3 separate regions of the Homo sapiens genome follow, and all the other regions are linked to region 2. The links come from fine-mapping of genetic effects on gene expression. A gene starts in region 2. Each other region holds a variant in brackets. All regions are shown on one strand. Distances are from middle to middle.

Region 1 (8,193 bases), 99 kb before region 2:
TTTGAACGATTATATTTATACTTTCCTGGCACTAAACATGCATGTGTATTGCAGGAAAATGTATAAAATAGAAACATGGTTTAGGAAACTGTAAAACTATCACTTCAATACTTAATACTTTTATTTTTCTGTACACCTTATTACTTAAATGTAAATAACAGATTTTTAAAACCTGAGATCTCATTCCATATAAAATCTGTATCATGTTTTCATGTAGCTTGATGTTTTAACTATTCTTACATCAATCTTCACAAGCATAATTATTAATATTTTCATATTCTCCCAATTCATTTAACAAATAGTTATTCAAGGCATACTCTGTCCATTCTAGATTCAGCTGATAGAGCTGAGATTAGGGCAGACGAAGTCACTTGCTCTCAGGGAACTTGCAGTGGCTCTTATGGTTTTACCATAATTAATTCACTATTTTTGAAACTATGTTTATTATTTATCACTAGCATGAAAAAATGCAATGGAAGTCTTATATAATTATGTGACATATACTTGATTATGTTATATGTACTTGACAACTGAATATAGTGTCCTTGAAATAAGTCATTTTATGTGCAGTTTAATGTTTTTGATATATACTGCAAAATTACTTTTAAGAAGAATTTTATAAATATTCACATGCCTGTCTGCTCTGTATGAAGGTGGACAGCATTACACACTGAAGGCTTTATTTTTTTAAAGGCTTTACCAATGTTGCAGTCAAAAAGTAACATCTAAAATTATCTTTATTGATTATGAGATTGCATAGATTTTCTTAAATTCATTGGTAAACTCTATTTATTCAACCTGTCTTTGCAAAAATTTTTCCTATTAGTCAATTGATAGTATCTCTCATGGATTTGTAAGTGCAATTTGTGTGCTTTTGTCTGTAATTTTTATAAATAATTTCCCTTTAATAAAAAGGCTTTGTATTGGAAAAGTGTTTGCCTATTTATGTCAAATATTCACCTCTTTTTTAATATTTACATTTTACATGAACTATTTTAATCTACTTTTCTTATCAATATAATAAACAAAATAAATATCTAACTTGATTTTCTTCTATATTGTTACCATCAACGCAGGAGCAGCATCAAAAACTTATCTCTAATGTTACTGTAGATATATATATATTTTTTCTATTTCCTGTCTCATTGCATTAGGTAGAACTTCTAAAACAATGTTCATAGTAGCGGTTATCCATGCTGGCCTCATCTTAATTTTAATAAAAATTACTGAAATGTTTCACTTTTAACTACAGTGGTAGCTGTTGACTTAAATATGCAGTTTTTACTGAAGTTAAAGAAAAATTCTGTTCTAAGCTCGAGTATATTTTTACCAAAAACAGGTATTAGATTTTCCTAAATGTCTTTTTAAGCATTTACTAAGAACTCCACAATACCTCTTACTTTTACTTATTGATAGAATATATTAATCATTTTCCTAAAATTAAATTCCCATTTGCATATACTAAATGAATTATTTATTAAAATTTATGTAGTTCAATATGCTGCTGGAATTTATTTGCTGCTATTTTATTTTGGATGTTTTTGTACCTATATTCCTACATGAGATGGTTCTGTAGTTTTGTTTTTAAGTGCTATCTGTATGTGCTTTTGGGATTAGGGTTTTCAGAGTTTTATGAAATACATTTGGAAGAATTTAGCATTTTCCTGTGATCTACTGCAATTTAAAATGCTAATGGTCTTCATTGATCCTAATTACTGTGTGAACTTAAGTGCATCTTGCCATTTATAGATGGAAAATGTCTGAAACTATTTGTTATAATAGTGAAATTCTATGTGGCCTAGTTCCATGGTAGATAGAAAAGAATTGGGAGTAGGATTAACCTAATTTTTCTTACACATTCCTAAGAATCTTAAAGGCTATCAGAGTACTGAGATTTGTCATCAAATTGAGACGCAAAACATTATTTTGTATGGCACAGAGCTCAGTCTCAGAAAACTACGCTTACTGCAGTCATATATTTACGTAAAATTTTTTATTTACATTGAATAGAAGGTTTATCTGTAATGTATACCCAAACAGACATCAAATAAGACATAATTAACACAGTGTAGATTTTACACCTGCCTTTCCCTGCCAACATAATATTTGTTTTTATTATTTTATGTTTTTTTGTCACTGTCCTCAACATTGTAACACTTCCAGTCTAGAGTTATATACAGTGAATTTATTTTTCAGTTTTAAAAATAATGGTTTTACCATATTCGTTTTAAACAACTAATATGGGTTGTATATCTTATAGTTGTTCCTCAGCATTAATTAATCTCCAGAAGTTAAGGCTGTGAATATATAATTAATGAACAATGTGAAGGTGAGATGTCATTTAAGCAGTTGGCAGATTGTCTTTAAAATTAATAATCTGTTTCTCCAACTGTTTGCACTTATTTCAAGGTGCTACTTTCTTCTTGATGCCTTTTTTTCACTTTTTTCCTGTTTTATTGATATGTAATCTTTTGCACATTTATGAGGTGTACATGAGTGTTTGGTACATGCATAGAATATACAATGATCAAGCCAGGGTATCTAGGGTATCGATCACCTTGAGTGTTTATCATTTTTAAATGTTGGCATCATTTCAAGTCATCTGTTGCAGTTACTTTAAAATACACATAATATTGCTGCTAAGTATAGTACCCTAGTCTGCTGTCAAACATTAAAACGTATTTCTTTTAATTAACTGTATGTTTGTATCCATAACTAATGATCATCCCTAGTCTCTCCCACCCACCCTTCCCAGTCTCTGGTATTTATCATTCTATTCTCTATGTCCATGAGATCAAGTCACATGTGGAGGATAAAAAACTTAGTGACTTTAAGTCTTAAGTAACTATTCATGGGATAGGCTCTGATTGCGTGCCTGGCTATGGCATAAAAAACTTAATTAGAAAAGAGGAGACATGGTGCTCTTAAATTTATGAGAATACATTTTCAAAGTTTAAACTGGTGACTTTCAAACTTCTGAGGAAAGGAAAATACTGCCTTCTTTGTATCGAAAGTCATGGGTTGCTCGTACATATGCGTACGTACATGACTGATGTCACTTGGCTCAATGAACAATGCTAAGTTATCAAGCATCCATGAGAACTGCATTTGTGGAATTCATTCAGTTATTTTCGTTCGTATATATTTCTTTGGCATTTTCTCCAATTCTTAAAAAGTAGAATAGTTTTAATTTTCTTACATTGGAACTTCTCTAACTTGGTCAACATGATTAATTCCTTTTATGTCTTTTGAACCTCAGTTTCTTTATACGTAAAGAGGTTCAGCTGGATTAGATGTTCTCTGAGATCTGACCCCTGTGCAACATACTACAATTTGTAGTTAGAAGATATTGGCACTGCAGATCTCATTAAGGACCTGAATAAGACTTCAAGTTTATGTATTTGCCTGCATTTATATAGATATATATTTTACATAACTAATTCATTTAAAATCTCTATGAGTTTATTCATATGGAAAATAACAATAGTAAAAAAGACTACCTTCATAGAGTTGTGAGGAAATTAAATAACATTTATAAGCACTTTCACAGTACCCAGCCCATGATGAGTGCTCAATAAATGTTGTTATATTAATTTTTATTCTTCCTTGGCATCAGTGGCAATGTTTCTAATCAAGTACTAATATCATTAAGGGCAGTGTATTCTATCTTTTTTTAAAAAAGAAACTACAGTCATAATCTGAATCATTATTTTTTAGTTAAATTGTATTCATCTGTCATACAATTTCTCATGTGCACAATTTTCAGAAACATTTTAATGTTTCTGAACAATTCCTTATTTTAATCTCTACATCTTTATAGTAAAAATGTTAAGCATTGTGTGACCAATTTTGAATAAGTCATTTTGATACTCATGATTTTGTCTCGTAATAGCTAAAATAATGAGTGCTGAATTAGTTAAGTGGTTTTTCAGTGGGTTGATAGATTATTTAATGAGTTGGCATTAAGCAAACAATGTCCATATAGATAAGAAATTCTGTAAAATGCTCTAACTTTAGCTATTAAAATTATGTCAAATTTTCGAATAAAGAGATAGTGGC[A/T]TGCAAATCAAATTCACAGGTATCACAGAGCTGGATATAAATAGCAGGAAATTAATAGATTAGAATAATAAGGCACCTCATCATGCTATAAAAATTGACAACATTTAGCAACTAAAATATAAAAGGGAATAATCAAACACCAAAATCAGAAATATAAGGTAAAACAAGTTGATACAAGAGATCTCTCTAATCAACTGCATGAGTAAAGAATTAAGGATTAAATTTACCATAATCTCAATGGATGAGGAAGCTGTCAAAAAATACAACACAAGCTTAGGCTTTAGGTTAGTTGAAAAATATGCTATAGAAGAATGATGCTGGAATTCCCATATTATTCTTTGCTGGGAAGAACACATTTGAAGAATGGGATACACTTCTGGGTACTTCAATTTCAATACAACATTAACCAGTGGGAGAATGTTGGATGAATATCAACAGAATAGGAATATATCTGGAAATGGAATGATTTAAAAGCAGTGTGTGTGTGTGTGTGTGTGTGTGTGTGTGTGTGTGTACACATATACATATGTTTGTATATGTATTAATTACAAAATTACCATGGAGAAGAAAAATTAGAGTAACTGGATTGGGAAAGGTGACAGCCACAGTGTTGTCACAGTTGGGGCTGTTCTTATCATTTGTGATGCTATACATGACGTGATGGAGCAGAAGTCACTGAAAGGCTAAATGTGCTTGTATGGCAGAACATTAAAAGCTGCCCATAAAATGAGAAAAAAAAATCCCTGCTTCATTGCCTGGACCTGATGGGCTCAAATATTAGCTGGAGAACTATATAAGTAACTAATTTTTTAAAGAGTGCCTTGGAGATATTGTTGAGGACATTGTGAAATACAGTGTTTTTGTCCCAATATGAAGCCCCTTCAGAGAAATTTCTTTATTATTGTAGACAAGAAAGTTTTGATCTCCCATCAGGGGAACTTTTTGTTTTAATGGACAATAAAAAGTCTATAACATTATATTTCCCTTTTTACTTCTATTGTTTGAAAACAGAATTCACTCAGTCAGCGATTCAGTGAATATTTATCATATTTATTTATTATATTTTCCTATTATATTTCACAGACTATTCTAGGTACTGGCAATGCAATAGTGAAAATGATAGGTAAGGAACTTTCTCTGTGGAACATCCATTCTTGTGGGCATGGAGGGTGGAAAGAAAGATATAAAATAAGTAATGAAACACATGGGCAAAATATTTTCAGTAGAGAGAGATTTACAAAGATAATTAAATAAGTCAACATGATTGAAAGAATATACCATTTAAAGTAGGCATTAGTTGGGCGCGATGGCTCACGTCTGTAATCGCAGCACTTTGGGAGGCCGAGGCGGGTGGATCACCTGAAGTCAGGAGGTTGACTCCAGCCTGACCAATATGATGAAACCTCATCTCTACTAAAATTACAAAAATTAGCCAGGCGTGGTGGCGGGCACCTGTAGTCCCAGCTAGCTACTCGGGAGGCTGAAACAGGAGAATTCCTTGTACCCGGGAGGTGGAGGTTGCAGTGAGCCCAGATTGAGCCATTGCACTCCAGCCTGGGAGACAGAAAGAGACTCCATCTCAAATAAAATAAAATAAAATAAAATAAAATAAAATAAAATAAAATAAAATAAAATAAATAAAATAAAATAAAATAAAATAAAATAAAATAAAAAGTACGTATTAGAGTTGAGTCCTGACTAATTCAGACAACTGCCAAAGCTCAATATCAGAGCTTTAAAGCAAAGGGAACAGCAAGTACAAATGTCCTCAGGAAGGCAAGAACCTTGGCTGTTGGAAAATAGGAGAAGGAGGCTACAAAAGTGATTGGAGCTTGGTGAATAAACAGGGAGATCAGAGAGATGGGCAGGAATCAAGTGTGGGCCCCACTCATTAGGATTTTACTCCATGTGTAAAGGGAAGCCATTAGAGTATCTTTAACAGGGGACAGCATGATCTGTTTCTTAACTTTAAAATGATCAATCATTCTATAATACTGTGAACTCTTTAGAAGCCTATGATTTTCATATATGAGCATATGCATTCTTAGTTTCCCACATCTTAATCTTCTGATTTCTTTACTGTCTAGTCTTGTCAATTTATTATTTAAATATCAACATTTAGTGTTTATCTATATTCTTGAAAGCTGATTCAAATCTTATAAAAGAATGATGGACCATAAATCTTAAATTAAATGAATTATGATTTGTTGACATTTTTGATAAGGATTGACTTAAAAGGCAGAAACTTGGATTTTAAAAACCCTTTGAGCCTGATACTCTAAAGGTCTATTGTATCTAGCTTCATAAGGATACACTGACTTTTCTTTCTTGCCAGTAAATCAAACAGAATCTCTTCAGTTGGCTTCGGCTTTCAGAAACACAGTCTTTTTTAGGTTATTCCTACTGTTAGGGTGAAGATTCCCAAAGCCTGGTTGACTCAAATTAGAGAGAAGAAAGAAACAAAGAAAGAACAAACAAAACTATTATTTCAATAATATGTCAGACATTTAACAAATAATTGCTGTCTAAAAGCATCATCTTCTAAAAATTATCTGAACATTCTGGTAGCAAGTTACTGAGAAATAGCAAACATTGCTTCTCCAGTTTTCTTAATATCAAATTCCTTTTTATAAGAAATGTTATTGAGTTAAGAAGAAAATGTAAAATATGTATATAAAGATTTATATTATGACAAATTAATGGAGAAAGCCAAAAGAATACAGACTGCTTTTACAAGTGAGGAGCAGAAGGAATAAAACTGTCAATAGCTAAGACAATGAATGTAAAATCCTGATGCCCACAAGCTTCAGAGGAAATTAACTGCAATTTTGTGATTTCCACCCTCAGTGTCTGATTATATGACATACCAATATCTGTGGCTCTTTGAATGTTTCTCATTTTGGAATCTTCAAGGGACCTTCTGTAAATGGGCCAACCATGGTTTCCCACTAAAGATTAGAGAGAATTTAATTCTCCACAAACGCAGCTGCAGAAACTGCCTACTGTAACCTTAAGACCAGTTTTACGCAGTAGACACGGATATAACTTGCTGCAACTCTAGGACTAGTTTTACATAATGCCTGCTTCCAAAACCTTATTGGTGCCCATGAACTTTCTTTTAAAACAATATATAACATATTCCTTTCTGATAAAACTTCCAAACTCCTCTTTTTCCTTTGGACGTACTGAAGACCATTTCGTGTGTGTGTATGCTACAAATTGTGATTCTGTGATTTCCAACATAAAATGTTAACTTTAGATATTTATCTCTACATATTATTTTGACCTTGACATTGTGAACTAAGGAAGTTGGGTCAAGGAAAATCAAGTATTGCTTCTTTCTATAGTGGGAATGAAAAAAAAATAAAAAGAAATTAATTATCTGTGTTACAAATGATAGATGAAGGATATAATTTTAAATTCAATGTAAAGGCACACTCTATCATAAACAGATTTTGTAGTAAATTCCACCTCTACGCAAAAACCTTCCTGACCTAGTTAAAAAATAAAGTTTCAATCCCTCTCCTTAGCCTCTGTGTTTCCTTCCATCCCTGTGTTTCCTTCAAATCGCATATCACAACTTGTAATGTTTTTAATGTATATTTCTGTTTATTTAAATGTCAGGGTTTGGGATTTATATTTTTACTTGTTTCTCTCTCTCTCTCTGTGTGTGTGTGTGTGTATGTGTGTGTGTGCATGTATGTGTGTGTCTGCGCGTGTGCACGCGCATGTGTGTTTATCCTGATTCTTCAACTAGAATGCAAGCTTCTTGCAACCAGGGCCACTTTTGCATTGTACATATTTGTATTCCCTTTTTATTGTATTCACGGTGCCTGGCACATAGATGATCAATAATTTGTTACAGAAAATAATGATCCTATATCACTAATCAAAATCAATCATTCCATGCTCTATATTCTCATTGCTTTGGTTGTTTACCTCTCTTTTAGCAATTAATATTATGTGCCACTTTTTAATGATTTGAGCTCCTTGAGAGTAGGGACACATCTCATTCACCTTTGTGTGCTATTACATTAGCCAGTGCCATCCCCACAGATAGAGTTATTAAATGATAGCTGAAATGACAATAGAAGCTGCAGAAAGCTGCTTCCATTGCTTCTCTGCAACAAAGAC
Region 2 (8,193 bases):
AATGACTCTATAAATAAGCATGATAAAACCTTAGTAACTTTAGCAGATATATAATTCCACTGTATATGGATAGGGTCAACATTCTTTAGCTTTGCTATAACATCTTCCTTGTTATGCATATAAACTGAACAAAAATATTTGTAGAAGCAGCAGCTCTACACATTTAAAAACAAACAATGAAAGAACCTGATACTTATTAAATAGTGACTTCCTAAAATTCTTAGGCATAATTTGAGGCTGTTGGCTGCTTGACATTATTCTGCACTGTGGGGAGTGGAGTCTCAGGTAAGAGACCCTGTCCTAGCCCTTGAGCTCTGTGACAGCAAGAGTTGGGAATGCTGCAAACTTGCAATCAGTGCCAGAAAGAAGGTGGAAGGTGTTTCTTCTTTTAACCACAATGCCAGCAACAGATTAAGGAGTGGTGTTACCCACACTACATGAAGCGTTGTTGAGTCTACTCTTGCTGTGAGTATTGTGTCTCAAATCAGGAAATGTTCTAAGTGTGGAATGTGTGAAGCGTGCATCACATCAGTCTGTTGTGACTGAGGCATTCTTTCAAAACCTGTCATCTGAGTCCAACAATGTTCCTATTTAATTAGCCACTAGTTTTTCTTTCTTTTTAATGATAAATAAGAGGCTCCCTTTCCTTCTCCGTGTACACAACATAGCTAGGGAAGAAACTCAGTCTCTTAAAGTCCTGCATAGTTTAACATTCATTCTTAGATTCTTTATGCATTTTGAATAGAAAAAAAAGGCAAATCCAGCTCATACATATGGTGGTCTTAAAAGGAAGCATATAATGAAGTATAAAAAATTACATCACAAATAAAAACAATACAATAACCATTTTTACAATTTTACTCTGCAATGTATTATTAGACTTGGAGAAACACTGCGAGTTTAGGTGGTTGTTGGCATGGCAAATGCTACTAATCAAAGAAACAGAGGTAGTTGGAGATGGACCAGAAAAGTAGGAGCAATGAGGGAGTGCTACTAAGAGTGATATGACTCAAGAATTTTTCCCTCTGTCTTTCTTAGTTCTCCCTATGTTCCCTCTCCCAGTTGTTGCTGAATTCACTGCTACCCCCAACCCCCATCCTGGACTCATTACTGCAAAGTCTTCTCAACTGATTCCCCAACTCAAGATGTAATTAGCTTCTCAGGCTAAGAGCAATTGGTAAAACATCTCACACATTTTTGTCCTTGTTGTTTGTGGGCATTTTTGTATGTTTATTGTTTTTATTTTTGTTTTTGTTTTTTGAGGCAGTTTCTCACTCTGTCTCAAAGACTAAAGGGCAGTGGCTTGATAATAGCTTACTGCAACCCCGAACCCCTGGACTCAAGCAATCTTCTGGCCTCACTCCCTCACCCCTAACCCCTTAGCTAAGACTACAAGTGCATGCCACCATGCTTGGCTAATTTTTAAATTTTTTGAAGAGGTGGGGTCTCGCTATATTGCCCAGGCTGACTCAGTTTCTTGAGAATCTTGAAAACAAACAAACAAAACACATGCTCAAGAACCAAAGTAAAAAAAAAAAGTTTTCAAATAGTTTGAGTAAGAAATGTCCTCAGATTAAACCACATAAAGCAGTTATGGTAGCATTAACAACAATCTATTATAGATCCATAAACATTCAATGATTTTAATATATTCTGAAAACTAGCTAAAGCATCATTCAAAATGTCTTCATTTTAAACTAAAATGTCAATAGGCATTTAACCGAAAAAAAATTTAAAGCTTGACATACTAAGCTTTCCTTCAAAAGTTTACATTTTTTTATATTTCACTGGAACAAAGTTACTTTGCATATACATCACACTTTTACTCTCAGAGGAGTTTCTCCTGCAGACTTCTTTAAAAAACTATATACATATATACATACATATACGTATATATTAAATTATCCTCAGCCTCAAATACTGATTTTGCAGTCTGTGATTCATAGCAGAAGAGGTGTCCCATTTTTCTATATTGACACACGATAATTTGACATTTGTTTTTTACTGACCAATTTCTAGCTAGATATTTCATCTATAAACTGCACTTAGCCAGCCTTATGCTGAACTTTGTAAGGGTTTTGTAATAATAAACTGTTCTTGACTGAAACACAAGCCTTTCATAATTACATGCCACAGTGCAATTCTTATGCAACGAGCTTGTGTTTTTCCAAATTTAGGACCAAGCATGTAGTTTTATCAGTTAGCTGGGATTTGGTCTTGTTTTCCCTTGATTCTGTAAGTGGTAGTTCTAACTTTGAAATGGGTCATCTAACTTATAACTATTTTCTTCATTTCTTTTTAAAAGGGAGAAATAGCATGCAAATTTCTGGCATGTTGATAGAAAGTTCAGCATTTTTTCCCTGACATGAAATATTTCATTTAGAATGCGTATGTTTCCTCTACGTATAAGGTTTCCTAGAGTCAGATATGATAAAAACAAACTCTGAGATGTATATACCTATGTTCCTACAAGTGTAAAACCTGAATGATGTCTCTGGAAATGGAGCCTCGGAGTGACCAGGAACACAAATACTTATATGTCACAGAAATAGAGGGGCACATACTTTGAAATATTTCAATGGAAATCAAAAATTGTAGTTTACTGGATTGAAATTAGTATCCTCTACTTAAACATTTTTGACACAAACTCAATGCTGATTCAGATCTGTAATCCATGTAGCTCATAATAACTTACTTGGTAGAAGTATTTCAGATTAATGAATTGTACAATTGTACAAATTAATAAATTGTACAATTGTTCAACTATACAATTAATTGTACAATTTGTATAGTTGAAAAAATCTATAAATTAATTTATAGATAAATTATCAAAGAAGACAACATTTTAAATAGTTATTCCCAATATTTTTTCTTCCATAATTAAAATAAAAGTAAGTATCTCAGCAATTGCTTGTTCTTAAAATTTCACTGCTATCTCAGCAGTCATGTAAGTTATTCTGGCTATTTAATTTTTCACTTTTGTTTGCATACTGTAACAGTTGGTAGGATAATTAATTTTGATTGTACATTTCCATTGAACTTTTGATGAAATTGTTTCACTCTTTTTATTAGAATAAAATTATTAGGAAAGTCTTCTAAAGAGAGGTTTTCTGTTTGTTTTTCCTTTGAGGAAGGTAGAGAGATGGGAAACGAAGACACCAAATATAAAGTCATTCCTCTATCTCTCATTTTAAAACCTGTTTTAAAGGTTGTAGCTAGTCAGGAAAACTGAAAAATCAACTGGTATTCCTAACTAAAGCAGGGCTTTGAAACTCTGCTACTAGCGACAGGGTTGGGAAAATTCCGGTTGCTCTTCTTGTCTGTGATATACGGTAGAAGGGTTGGTCCTGGTTTGGTCCACCTGCCAGCGGAGTTTAAAGTTTCCGAGGCTCAGAGGAACACAATGACTTGGATCAAACAGCCTAAATGGGAAGAAGGACATTTTTGCTGCATCAAGGAAGCCGTTAAACTCCTGCTAAGCTAACTAGCTCTTTTTTATGGGTCCATGCACACGACCGAACTCCTCTTTCACTGACCAGAGATTATTTCTGACAACCCAGGATATCCCGAAAGCTTGGAGGCATATGGCTGGAAAATGAAACGACCCAGGACATCGTTTCTGGCTGCATCATTATTTTGTGTCGCGTAGTACCAGATGGGCAGTCAGTGAGCGGCGCAGGGATGTGAACGGACGGTTTTATAATGTGAAAATTTTCCCTTGGTAAAGCTAAAACAGATTTAATTTCCCTCTCTTTTCTTTCACTACTTCCCCCTCTTTATTCCCCCTCTGTCTGCAATATCAGTGAACTCAACTTTGCAGTGAGGTGGCCAAAAAGAGAGAGAATGAGGAGATCTTGATCATCTTAGTGTCGGAGGAGTCGCAGCGGACTGGGAACTGCAGCTGCGACCCCCCGCGTCCTGTGCGGATTTCAGGGCTGATACCGCATAGGCGGTTATGGAAAGGACGGTACACCGGAGCGGCGGAGGATAGAGACCCTGGCCCCCGGAGAGGTCTGCTGATTTCGCAGCAGCCTTCGAAGCCGTGGCTGCCTTTCATCTGCTGCGTTTTATTACTATTATCGCCGTTCCGGAAAAGTCATGGAAGACAGCCCGCTGCCAGACCTCAGAGACATCGAGCTGAAGCTGGGGCGCAAAGTACCCGAGAGTCTAGTGCGCTCTCTCCGTGGGGAGGAGCCGGTTCCCAGGGAAAGGGACAGGGACCCCTGCGGGGGGAGCGGTGGTGGTGGCGGCGGCGGCGGCGGCTGCAGTAGCAGCAGCAGCTACTGCAGCTTCCCTCCCTCCTTGTCGTCCTCCTCTTCGTCCTCCCCAACCTCTGGCTCCCCACGAGGTAGCCACTCTAGCGCCCTGGAGAGGCTAGAAACCAAGCTTCACCTCCTCAGGCAAGAGATGGTGAGTGTGGTGCGCCAGCCGCGGGGGCTGGGACCTGGGCTGGGCCAAAAGATGGGGCGATCTGAGAATGGGGCTGGGAGAGAGGACGGCAGGGGCTGCAGAGCGGAGCGCTGGGCGCGTGGGAAATGCTGGGTGGAGGAATGAGCAGGGGGCGCTCATCCGGAGGCAGCTGCTGCGAGGCTTGTTTACCGCGGACTTTGCTCGGTCACGGTTTGCAAAGACAGCACAGTCGGCTGGCTCCACTCTGTGTACTTTCGGACAACGCGACTCACTGCGCCGGGCTCTATTTAGCTGCCAGCCCGTAGCCTCTTAGGCACCAGCCCGTTGAGAGTTTGCAGTTATTGCACCCATCTAAGGCCTGCTGTGCGCTGTTAACACTTCGGGTAGGTTCAAAAGGTGGCTCAGTCCAATGCACTTACTGCAAAAATACTTCCTGGTTTGCCGGGAGGTGGCGTGGCAGGGTCCTTGCAGCCTTTCCTCCTAGCTCACCCTTCCACCAGTACCGCTCCGCCCTCCTGCCCTCCCTTCTTGGTGCAGCAGCCGCAGCTGTTCCAAGGCCACTGTCGAGCAGATTCTCCACAGCTGGTTCTGAAAACAATGGCCTACTCGTCCTTGATGTACTTATGAATAGCTTGTTTCACTATTTTGATCCCAGGGAGCAGGTGATCCCCAGGCCCAGGGATCTGCTAAGGACCATCTCCCACCCTTCTCCCTCAAGTCTCAATCTGCAGTTGTTTTCCCTGCTGTTTGCAAACGTTTGCCTGAGCATAGGACAATGAGATAAGTACAAGGTCTAGGAATACTCATTCTGGAAGTATTTAGACTAAGACACTATTTACTTGCCATGAGCTCTTGGGCACGTCACTTCACTTCTGTAGACCTCTGTGAATTTGATGAGCTGGTTAGAGAAAATGATCCCTCCCTAAGTCCTTTGAAAAAAACGACCACAAAGCAACAGCATTTTCTACTAGCTTGGAGATAAGGAAAGTTGCAACAGTGGGCCTCAAAAAGAGAAAATAATTTCATTAAATTAACTTCACAGTTGCTTTTGATTTGCTTCAAAGTAGGCTAGGAGATTTCTATCACTCCGACAGGAATGCTGGAAATTATTTCTATCATTCTATCGTTTAGTTATTATAGAGTTCTATCATTTAGTGATTGTTATTTTTTAGGTTGGACAAAAATTTAAGGACAACCCTTAGGTACATAATGGAGAAGCTGGAAAGTGGAAGTCATCTTGATGAGTTTGCAAAATAGATGAAAAGATAAAATGGAAAAGATGACAAACCAACAGGTCAGGGGATGCCTGATACCGTATCACAAAGATCAGACATACGTGTGGAGACTAACAGGTAAAACTATTTTCCACAAGAAAATTTCTTGTACAAGGAATTAAGAATGTTGCTAACTCTGCAAATTAAGGACTTAATATGAGGGACGAAGACATCAAGGAGATGAGGAAATTTTATTCCTAACCATGTCTTCTGTAATTTTACCCATGGAATGTTAATATATTCACTTAATCTAATAAATAAATCTTGTTGAAACATATTTTCTTTCTCAGTAGCTCACTGATAGCACATCAAAGATAATACTGTCATTTTGCTGGACACTCAGACACAATTTAGAGTATTTATATATAACTTGAAAACAGTAACATTTCCAAAAACCGATGAACCCCACCCTGTCCCAAGGAATGATTGGTATGTATGTGAAGATCATTTTCTGACAAAAATAATTACGTTCCACTTAGGATGCACAACCATGTTGTCCTGTAGAGAAGTCACAAGTTTTGTGAGAATTTTTAAACTGATGATGTTTATTTCCATGGTAACGTGAGTATACATTTTACCTTCTATTGTAGTGATGAATCACAATTAGTTTTTTTTTATAGGTTGGTGGAAAAGTAATTGCTGTTTTGCCATTGCTTTTAATGGCAACCACAACTACTTTTGCACCAACCTAATATTTATTAAGACTTTACTTTTTTGAGACACAATTTCTGAAACTGGGATTTATGTTGAGAGTCTCTAAGGTCCCTGATAATTTGTCGCATTTGTTGTTGTTTTTTGGAGAATATTTCATCACTACTCAAATGATGGTCCTCTGGTCTGGTGGAAGCTTCGTAAGCTTTGAAGCCAGATAAACCAGGGTTTCAGACAAGTCTAGAGCAAGTCAGGATATCAATAAGACCCAATAGGATGTAGGGCTGCCTGTCTAGGGAGACATTTAGCTTATCTTCCCCGGCAAAAAGGCTTGTCCCGCTCTCTGTGGCCCTCATTCTAGTCATGGCTTTTTCACTCACTAGTGTGTGGCACTGAACAAGTTATAGAACCACTTTGAGACTCAGCTTTCTTGTTAACATAGGAATAAGAGCATCTCCATTAAGGCATTTTAAGAATTCAGTGAAATAATATAAGAAAAACAACTATTACATAGATATTCAAAAACAGTAAGGATGCTGGCAGTAATGAGCATTACATCAATGACATGGGTTCCGTTGATCTTACAAAAGCAGCCCTACATGGATAATGTGGATTTGGGACTGATGAAGGCCTAGATATCTTCTCCACCAGACTGACTCTATCATGTCATCTCCCATGTCATCAGATACTCTCTGTAGAGACGATGTTTCCAAACAAACTAACGCACAAAATATGTGTAGGTTTCCCTAGCTTCAGTTCAACTGGAAATCTTGATTTTTATTTTAAATTTAACTTTTATTAAACACATGCTATGTGCTAAGCATGCTGCTGATTGAAGTAGCATGTATGAAAGAATTGTAGAGCCTAATGTCAGGTAGTCCAGGAAATCTGAGGAACTTAAACCAATACAGTAGCCCACCTTATCCATGGGAGATATGTTCCAAGACCTCCAATGGATGCTTGAAACTGTGGATAGTACCAAAGCCTATATAGACTGTTTAGTCCTATGCGTACGTACCTATTGTAAAGTTTAATTTATAAATCAGTCACAGTAAGAGATTAACAATAATAACTAACAATAAAATAAAACAGTGTATTGCTATGTGAATGTCTCTCTCTCTCTTTCTCTCTCATTCTCTCTCTCTCAAAATACTATAATATTTTCAGACTGCAGTTGACTGTAGGTAACTAAAAGCAAAGCCATAGATAAGGGTGTACTACTACATTTGGTTACTTTGGTGAGACTTTACTATGTGTAAGACACGGTGCTAGTTAAACATTTTATATGTATTATCCCGTTGAAATCTTATAATCTTTTTTTTTTTTTTTTTTTTTTTTTTGAGACGGAGTCTCGCCCTATCGCCCAGGCTGGAATGCAGTGGAGCGATCTCGGCTCACTGCAAGCTCCGCCTCCCAGGTTCAGGCCATTCTCCTGCCTCAGCCTCCCAAGTAGCTGGGACTACAGGCACCTGCAACCACGCCCGGCTAATTTTTTGTATTTTTAGTAGAGACAGGGTTTCACCGTGTTAGCTAGGATGGTCTCTATCTCCTGACCTCGTGATCCGCCACGGCCTCTCAAAGTGCTGGGATTACAGGCGTGAGCCACCGTGTACGGCCGAAACTTTATAATCTTTTAACTAAATGTAATTGTCACCATAATCTTATAGACAAAGCATTGAGGTTTATTGAGCTAATGCTGAAGGTAGTAAGTGGAGGAGCCAGGATGAGGTCAGAATCTGAGATTTTAACCATGCCTATGCTGTCACTTCTTACACTTTAGAATACCTCCATGCTCATGTGGACACCTAGGAACAAATGAATATTTCTATTCTTCTCCCAGAATTTCAAAACATTAAAC
Region 3 (8,193 bases), 67 kb before region 2:
CTATTTTTGTCCTCCTGCACACCTTCACAGATGCAGTCTTTGATGAATGGCTGAGGAGATACAATGCTGGTAAGACATTTTCATATGCCTTTTGCATGCTCAGCTGGGCGGATTGTTTAGATGGCATAGTTATCAGTTCAAGCTGAGCACTCAGCGCATAAAAACACTTTCAAAATAAGGATAGCATAGCTGTAATATCAAGTCACTTCCAGACATTCAATTCTACTTTGAAAATGCAGGCAAGAAGTCTCTCCAAATAGTTATTATAGGATGATATTTTTAACCATTTGCTGGGACTAACCAAATCATCTCTCCTAATTTTTGCTACGAAAAAATGGCTACTATGTTTCACAAATTGTTCTTACCCTCATCTTCCAACATAAATTCTCATTACTTTTAAATATAAATGAGGAAAACCTTATAGAGCTCTTCTTTGATATCCCAAAAGACTAAAAATTTTATACCCATAATCCACAGTTCTTATTTTTATTACTTAATGGCCCCTCACAAATAGAAATTGTGTTCCACTTGAAAAGTTAATGTTGGCTTTTATATCACACTATAGGAAATCTCTTTTAAGTTCATTTCAATGCATTCTTTAAAATACTATTTAAAAGGCCTCTTTCTCTGCCTTCCTATGCAGCTGAGAGGCTAGCATTATTTTTCAAACAATAAAAGTGCTTCCACTGGTTAAAACATCGCAAATTTTCATAGGTTGAAAGCATTCTAAATTTTGGCTTTTGTGCCTTTAGCTCATAACGCACATAAACCTGATATTGTAGCTTAACTACCTATTGATTTATGTATCCATTAGGCATGCTTTCATTTCTATGTGTGTATGTGTGCAATAACGTCCTCTAATCCAACCTAATTAGGACCATTAATTGATGAAATTGATGAAAATAGTTTGTTCCATCAAAAATTATTTAAGAAACAACTTACACATAAGCCTGTAATCGCAGCACTTTGGGAAGCCGAGATGTGGGGATCACTTGAGCCCAAGAGTTTGAGACCAGCCTGGTCAACATGGTGAAACCCCGTCTCTACTAAAAATACAAAAATTAGCCAGGCATGGTCATGGGCACCTGTAATCCCACCTACTGGGGAGGCTGAGGCAGGAGAATCACTTGACCCTAGGAGGTAGAGGTTGCAGTTAGCCAAGATCACACCACTGCACTCTAGCCTGGCTGACAGAGACAGAGTTAGTTTTCAATCAGTTATGAATTCAGTTATTGCAGTTTCATCTCATTTTCATGTGTATTTATATACATAATGACAACCATAAATCTATAATTTACACTGTCAGCTTTTTTAAAAGTGAAACAATAAATGAGTGACTTTTGAAATACAATATGAGGGCAAATATTTTAGCCATACACCTTTAACAAATCTTTCCAAAATGTTCAATTTACATACTATAAAAACAACATCCTTCTCTTTGTTTTACAGTCATGATGACCACTTTATGTTTGTTTAACTAGATTACTTTTATTACAGTAATGAGTAAACTCAAATTAATAGGTTTAGGAATTAACAAAACCAGCTTTTGTTAAACATGCACTTCTGGGAACTACATGGCAATGTTCAAGTTGTATTTATTCAGTTATTCACAATGCCGTGGGTGTTAGTAAACTTTTTAGAGGAAATGGAGACTATTCAGTAACCTGGCAAGTCTCTTAAGTGGAGTTTTCTTTCACCTATGAAAGAAAGGAAAGATATTCCTTCACCTTGTGTATCTTGGCTGAAAATATAATTATTTCACATTGATAGCAAGTTGTTAAAGGTTCTCCAGATTTTAACTTAAAGGTCATTGATGAACCAGAAAAATACCTTTTGAACATTTTTTTCTGACATTTTCTTTGTTTGCAATATGTGTAGCATAAGGTTTCTCAGTAACTTGAATTGTAGTGGGAAGAGAAATACCGTAAATAAAAAATAGGAAACTACCCTGCAGCACATTTCTGATAAAATGTGGCCATAAAATTATAGGATAGGTCAATGTAAACACTTGCAAACTGCATGAAAGCTAAGCTGAAACAATTAGCCTCCTTCTTAAATATTCCTTGTACCTGCAAATACGTTTTAGAAATCAGTGTCATAAAACAACTGTGAAGAAGAGAAAGAAAAATTAGAAAGATTAAAAAAATTTATAAAACTGTCTGTAAAGCAAGAGTCTTGTTTAAAATAAGTCTAGGAGTGGAGGGATGGAATTCTTTTTCAAAATGATTGAAAGGTTTTTACAAATATAGAAAGCTCTTTACAAATTGCAGAATAATAGAATTATTAGGCTTGGAAAGGAACAAAAATTACACTTTACAGATAAAGAAAAGTGGAGTCATTCAAATATTAATGTCCATTACAGGTTCCTTTCATTAGACATGAAATAGTACAATTGAGAGCATCCAAACTCTAGTTACTACCATGTTAATTTCTATTTACTAACATTTCTGATCTATATACACATTCAATTCAATTCCTTCTCTTTTATTTCAACTGAGAATTATATGAATTAAGTTTTAAATATAGCAGCCCAGAAGTTCAGTGTATTTTCAGAAGAAGCAGTTTATACGTTTCCAAGAGTGATCACTACTTTACTTTTTGAGCTGTGAGAGAAATGAAGTAATCACACGTACACTTAAGTCTTTTCATATATATTATTTTCAAATCTACTATTTCCTGGTCAGTATTCAAGGTACCAGAAATACGATGCTATACAAAATTCACCAACAAATTTTCTTCCTGAAACTTTTCTTCCTGTTGATAAAATTGACAATAACCATATGTAAATACATATACAGCATGTTAGATGGTGGAAGTCTCTATAGACAAATAAAATCAGGAAATAGGATAGGCAGTACTGTGTAGATATATGGAAGAAGAATGTCCTAAGACAAAGGAACAGGGAGCCAACTGTGGCTGGAGTAGAGTGGGGTCTGGGGAGAGAGTGGTGAGAGATAGTAAGGTCAAAGGGATAACAGGAGGCAGAGCTGTATGCCACAGCAAATTACAGGTTTATGTTTTCTTTGGCTTTGAAAAATACATTTAATGAATTTTATTCAAATTGCTTTATGTAATTTTTAAAAATTATTCAAGATCACCATAGGTGATGAAATACTAAAACTCCCCTGCTTTTAAACTCTCTTTTTTATTAAGTGGTATATTGGTACTGTATTCAAAGCATTTTCTGTTTTATGTAATTTCTCATCCTGCTGTAGTGAAACTTC[A/G]TATCTTTATTCAGTGTAAAATAAGAATAAAATTTTTTCAGGTTCTCCTTGAATATTGGATGCCTTTAGAACTCAATAATGATAGGAATATTAATTTTATTATGTTTATTAATACGTTGTCTTTGGAATAATTTAGATATATCCACATTTCCATTGGAAAATGCCCCTATTGGACATAATAGACAATACAACATGGTGCCATTCTGGCCCCCAGTCACCAACACAGAAATGTTTGTTACTGCTCCAGACAACCTGGGATACACTTATGAAATTCAATGGCCAAGTGAGTGTTGAAAGTGTATTTTTACTGTGATAATTTCCAAAAGCAAATGTGTTATCTTTCAAGTAGAGTAATCACGGTATTCTGAAGCTATGTTTTCCATTTGGACTTGGAAACTTTCATTTGTACTTTTATTTGAGGATAAGGGAAGGAATTTGATATTTGTTGAGAGTCCACACTAAGCTGATATTGATCTTATTGTACAGCACCCTATCTCATTTAATCCTCACAATGCTTTGGGGTGAGTATGAAAATCTTCATTTCACAAATAAGGAAGCTGAGGCTTAAATAGGTTAACTGTTACAGATTCACATTTCTAATGAGGGAAGAGAATGAGTTTGAGCTTAGGCCCATGGAATATGCCCCAATTTTTCTACTATACCATATTGCCTGCATTTATCTATCTTAAAGGAAAAGGGAGTGAGATACTCTTAGGTATTTTTCTGAGATTTTGAAGTTCAAAAGTTTTTTGTTTAAATCTTTTCCCCAACAAAGGCAGTAGGGCATAGTGGAAAAGTACAAGACTTATATTCTAAAATATCCGGGCTCCAAAGCCAACTTTATTGCTTACCAACCAAGTGACCTGGGTAAGTGACTCAGACTCATTGAGTCATCATTCTCTCACTTTCACAAAATGAAATGGAAATAACAATGACTATCCCAATAGGGTCCACTCATTAAAAGAAATCAGGAAGTGGCTTCAAGGCCATGTGGCCAATGTAAATTAAATATGAGGATTTCTGTTAAAATAGACATTTCTAAATTTCATCTGTCCACTTTTTGGTGATAACTATTTTAATATTTGTCTTTTTATTTTTATCTTCCTTTCCAAATAGGTCGGGAGTTTAGTGTACCTGAGATAATTGCCATAGCAGTAGTTGGCGCTTTGTTACTGGTTGCACTCATTTTTGGGACTGCTTCTTATCTGATTCGTGCCAGACGCAGTATGGATGAAGCTAACCAGCCTCTCCTCACTGATCAGTATCAATGCTATGCTGAAGAATATGAAAAACTCCAGAATCCTAATCAGTCTGTGGTCTAACAAATGCCCTACTCTCTTATGCATTAGTATCACAAAACCACCTGGTTGAATATAATAGATTGAGTTATTAACTGTATTTTCTTTCACTTTATTACCTTCTTTCTAATACAAGCATATGTTAGCATTAAAGTTCTAGGCATACTTTTCAAAGCTGGGAAGACCCTTTCAGAATCTTTTCAATGGGTTTTAATTTTCAGTTCTATTTAAAATGGTGAATGACACTAAACTCCATGATATTTAAGGATAGTGTGAAGATCTTTGGCATGATTTAAAGGTTGAGTATGTGAAGATATAAGTAAGTGAACTACCATGCTTTGTTTACGTGTAAAGGAAAATAATGTTTGATAGTAAATGTCCACTTAAAATACATGAATGGGCATTTCTAAAATGTTAAAACATAAACACATTTCCATTCATGGATATTTGTCAACAGATTTAAAGAAAACCACAGTTATTAATTAAAGAAAATTAATTATGTGTAGTTATAAACCAATGAAATTTTGATTAACCTTTTCAAATTAATGTTCCAGTTTGAAGACCAATCAAATATATTATTTAGTCAACATATACTATTTAGTCTCAGGTTCAAGGCTACAACAAAAATCACCATCTTTGTCAAACTTTGGAGAGGGAAAATCTTCACTTTCTTAAGCAACAATGGATATTGCCTGTGTTTGCCACTGTGTTTCCCTGCCTCTCAATTCGCTGAAAAAGGAACTACCTATCCTTACATTTCACCTACTAATGTCTCTTCTAACATCTTAGAGGTCCATGGAGAAGGCATATGGAGAACATGTTTTATACTGCTCTATAAATAGTATTCCAATCACTGTGCTTAATTTAAATAGCATTATCTTATCATTTATCAGCCTTTTATGTATTTTCCAAGTAAAATATTAACATATTATTTCATTGGTCTTCTTTTTTATCTGGTTCTATATGAATGCTATTTTTTCCCTTCTCTTCTAACATGAAATATATTTTCTCTTTTTGATCTTGTGCTATGAAACAATCTTCCAAAGAACTGTATAAGGTGGTCATAAGTGAATATTTTAATTAAAATTGGTAAAAATAAATAATAACAGTAATAATCATGCACTATAGAAAATGGCTAAACTGAGATTCTAAATTCTACAAACAGAAACAAGTTTAAGTTATGTATCCCTGATTGGTTACTGGGTTTTCCTATATTCAAAAATATTAAGGCTATATATACACAAGATAAACAAATAAAATATATCAAAGAGCATGCATATAACAATAGGATGTTTTACACTAGCATTATTCAATTTATTCTCTTGGAATACATTGCGATTTGTTAAAATACAGTATACTCACAGCTTTTCAAAGAAATTACTGTGTAATGTAAGATGCCTTTTTATATAGAACATCAATGAAACTAAATACTTCACTTTATATTTTTGTAGACTTACTAATTACTCATTTCAGAAACATTTATTAAGCACATACTAGATATCAAGTATTTCAAGGCACTATAGATTTAGAGAGAAGAAAATAAGAATTGTAAAATTGAGAAGGTCATGTTTGACTTGTACTTCAAGGACTGCCAATGGATTTACCAAATATAGAAGCAGAGAAGGGAATTTTATTCAAAAGTGACAGCATGGACAAGGGCACAGAAGTTTAAAAGAGCATGGAACTTTTTAAAATATAAAATAGGTCAGTGTGATTACAGTATAGTTTTTATGGAGGGGAGTAAAAAGATAAATTGGAAATAAAACCAGAGTGTCCTATATGCAATTCTTAATACTTGGAATTAATTCCATGGGAAATAGGAAACAGGGAGAGTCATAATCAAGCTGTATATTTATAAATATAGTAGTGATGGTGCTGTTCACAAATAACGTTGATGAGAAATAATTTGGAATGGTTAAAAGCAAAGAAACTCATTAATATGGAATAGATTGTGGGAGAGAGGAGAAAGCCTTGTTTCAAAGCATTAATTCTAAATAATCATAATTATAAGATAAAGTTGTACACATCTATAAATAAATAAATACAGCTTATATTATAAATACTATATAATATTGAAATTATAAGTATAATATAAATATAGCTTTAAGTAAATCATTACAAAAATGTCAGTTAACAATGGAAGACTGTGAGAGAGAGGATTAAAACAAGAGCAAAACAGAAAACTATTAACAAAATGGCAGTTAGTAAGTCCTCAGCAATCAGTAATTATTTTAATGTAAATGGCTTAATATCCCAAATAAGAATGCTTAAAGTAGCTGAGTGAATCAAAAAACATGATCCAGTGACTTGCTGTCTATAAGAGACTCACTTTAGATTTAAAAATACATATAGGCTGGAAGTAAAGAGATGGAAAAGGATATTATGAAAATGGTAAAAAGAAAAAAAAAAGAAAGCAGGGGAGGCTATCCTATCAGACAAAATAGACAAAGTCAAAAACTTCCTCTAGAGGTGAAGTTCATTATATAATAATAAAAGGGTCAATTTAACAAGATATAACAATTGTAAATATATACATATTCAATATCAGAGCACTTAAATATACAAAGCAAATGTTGATAGATCTGAAAGGAGAAATTGATATCAATACAATACTAGTAGTAGAATCTAATATTCCACTTTCAATAATGTATAAAACATCCAGGTAGGAGATCTATAAAGAAAGAGAGTACTTGAACAACACTGTACACCAGTTGGACTTTAGGGACATATACATTACATACCACTCAACAGCAGCAGAATATTCTTATACTTCAGCAACATGTTCTTCTCAAACACAGGTGGAACATACTCCAGGATAAATTACATCAGACCTCAAAACAAGTCCCCCCAACATTAAAAAGATAAAAGTCATTTCAAAGATCTTTTAAGATCACAATTGAGTAAAATTAGAAATCAATAGTGCAAGAAAGTGGGAAATTCACAATGACGAAAAAACAATACACTCTTAAATAACCATTGGGTCAATTAGGAAATCATAGAGGAATTTAAATTATATCTCAAGGCAAGTGAAAACAAAAACACAACATATCAAAACTTACAAGATCCAGCAAAAGTACTAAAAAGGAATTTTGTAGCAATAAATGCCTACGTTGAAATCTAAGGATCTCAAATGAACAACCTAGCTTATACCTCAAAGAACTAGAAAAAGAACAACAAACTAAGCCCAAAGTTAGCAGAAAGAAATAAATAATGAAAATTAGAGTAGAAATAAGTACAGAATAATAAAACAAGAGAAAATTCAGAAAATTAAGGGTTTTTTTTAAAAAAATAAAAAAATGGACAAACCCTTAGCTAAACTAAGAAGAGGAGAGGACTCAAAATCAGAAATGATAGAGGAAGCATTAAAATGTGTTCCTAAGAAACAAAAGGATCAGAAGAAACTTTTATAAACAATTATATGCCAACAATTGGATAACTTATAAGAAATGGATAAATTCCTAGAAACATACAACATACTAAGACTGATTTCAGAAGAAACAGAAAGCCTGAACATAACAATAACAAACAAGAAAACTGTTGCATAAGCACCCATTTCTTGTTGCATAAGCACCCATTGCATGTGAGTGCTGCAAATTGATCTAAGCTTTATAGTCTAAGTGGAGTCCATTAAAATATCTGACTGTCCTACGCGTGAAAAATAAAAAGCTATT

Which allele goes with the higher level. Positions count from the first base shown, and alleles are read on the strand shown. Sizes are in standard deviations (SD) of each study's normalised expression. Not every link is listed here.
As copies of G replace A in region 3, the expression in skeletal muscle of the gene that starts at base 3,403 in region 2 goes down (moderate effect, 0.49 SD a copy in FUSION).

The links.
Region 1: its variant is fine-mapped to the expression of LURAP1L in spinal cord (GTEx, PIP above 0.99).
Region 3: its variant is fine-mapped to the expression of LURAP1L in skeletal muscle (FUSION, PIP 0.95).

The regions. Positions count from the first base shown.
Region 1 is chr9:12,672,247-12,680,439 of GRCh38, forward strand. No RefSeq gene overlaps it. Among named protein-coding and RNA genes, the nearest start is that of TYRP1, 17 kb to the right of the region's middle. RefSeq lists enhancers at 2,946-3,090, 2,966-3,110 and cis regulatory regions at 3,018, 3,038. The variant A/T (reference allele first, on the strand shown) is at 4,060.
Region 2 is chr9:12,771,618-12,779,810 of GRCh38, forward strand. It overlaps LURAP1L (leucine rich adaptor protein 1 like), which reads left to right and starts at 3,403. Exons shown (of 2, transcript NM_203403.2): 1 at 3,403-4,410. The coding sequence starts at 4,099. All of the region lies in intron 2 of LURAP1L-AS1 (LURAP1L antisense RNA 1), which reads right to left.
Region 3 is chr9:12,704,637-12,712,829 of GRCh38, forward strand. It overlaps TYRP1 (tyrosinase related protein 1), which reads left to right. Exons shown (of 8, transcript NM_000550.3): 6 at 1-69; 7 at 3,361-3,507; 8 at 4,341-5,649. The coding sequence ends at 4,546. All of the region lies in intron 3 of LURAP1L-AS1 (LURAP1L antisense RNA 1), which reads right to left. Among named protein-coding and RNA genes, the nearest start is that of TYRP1, 15 kb to the left of the region's middle. The variant A/G (reference allele first, on the strand shown) is at 3,225.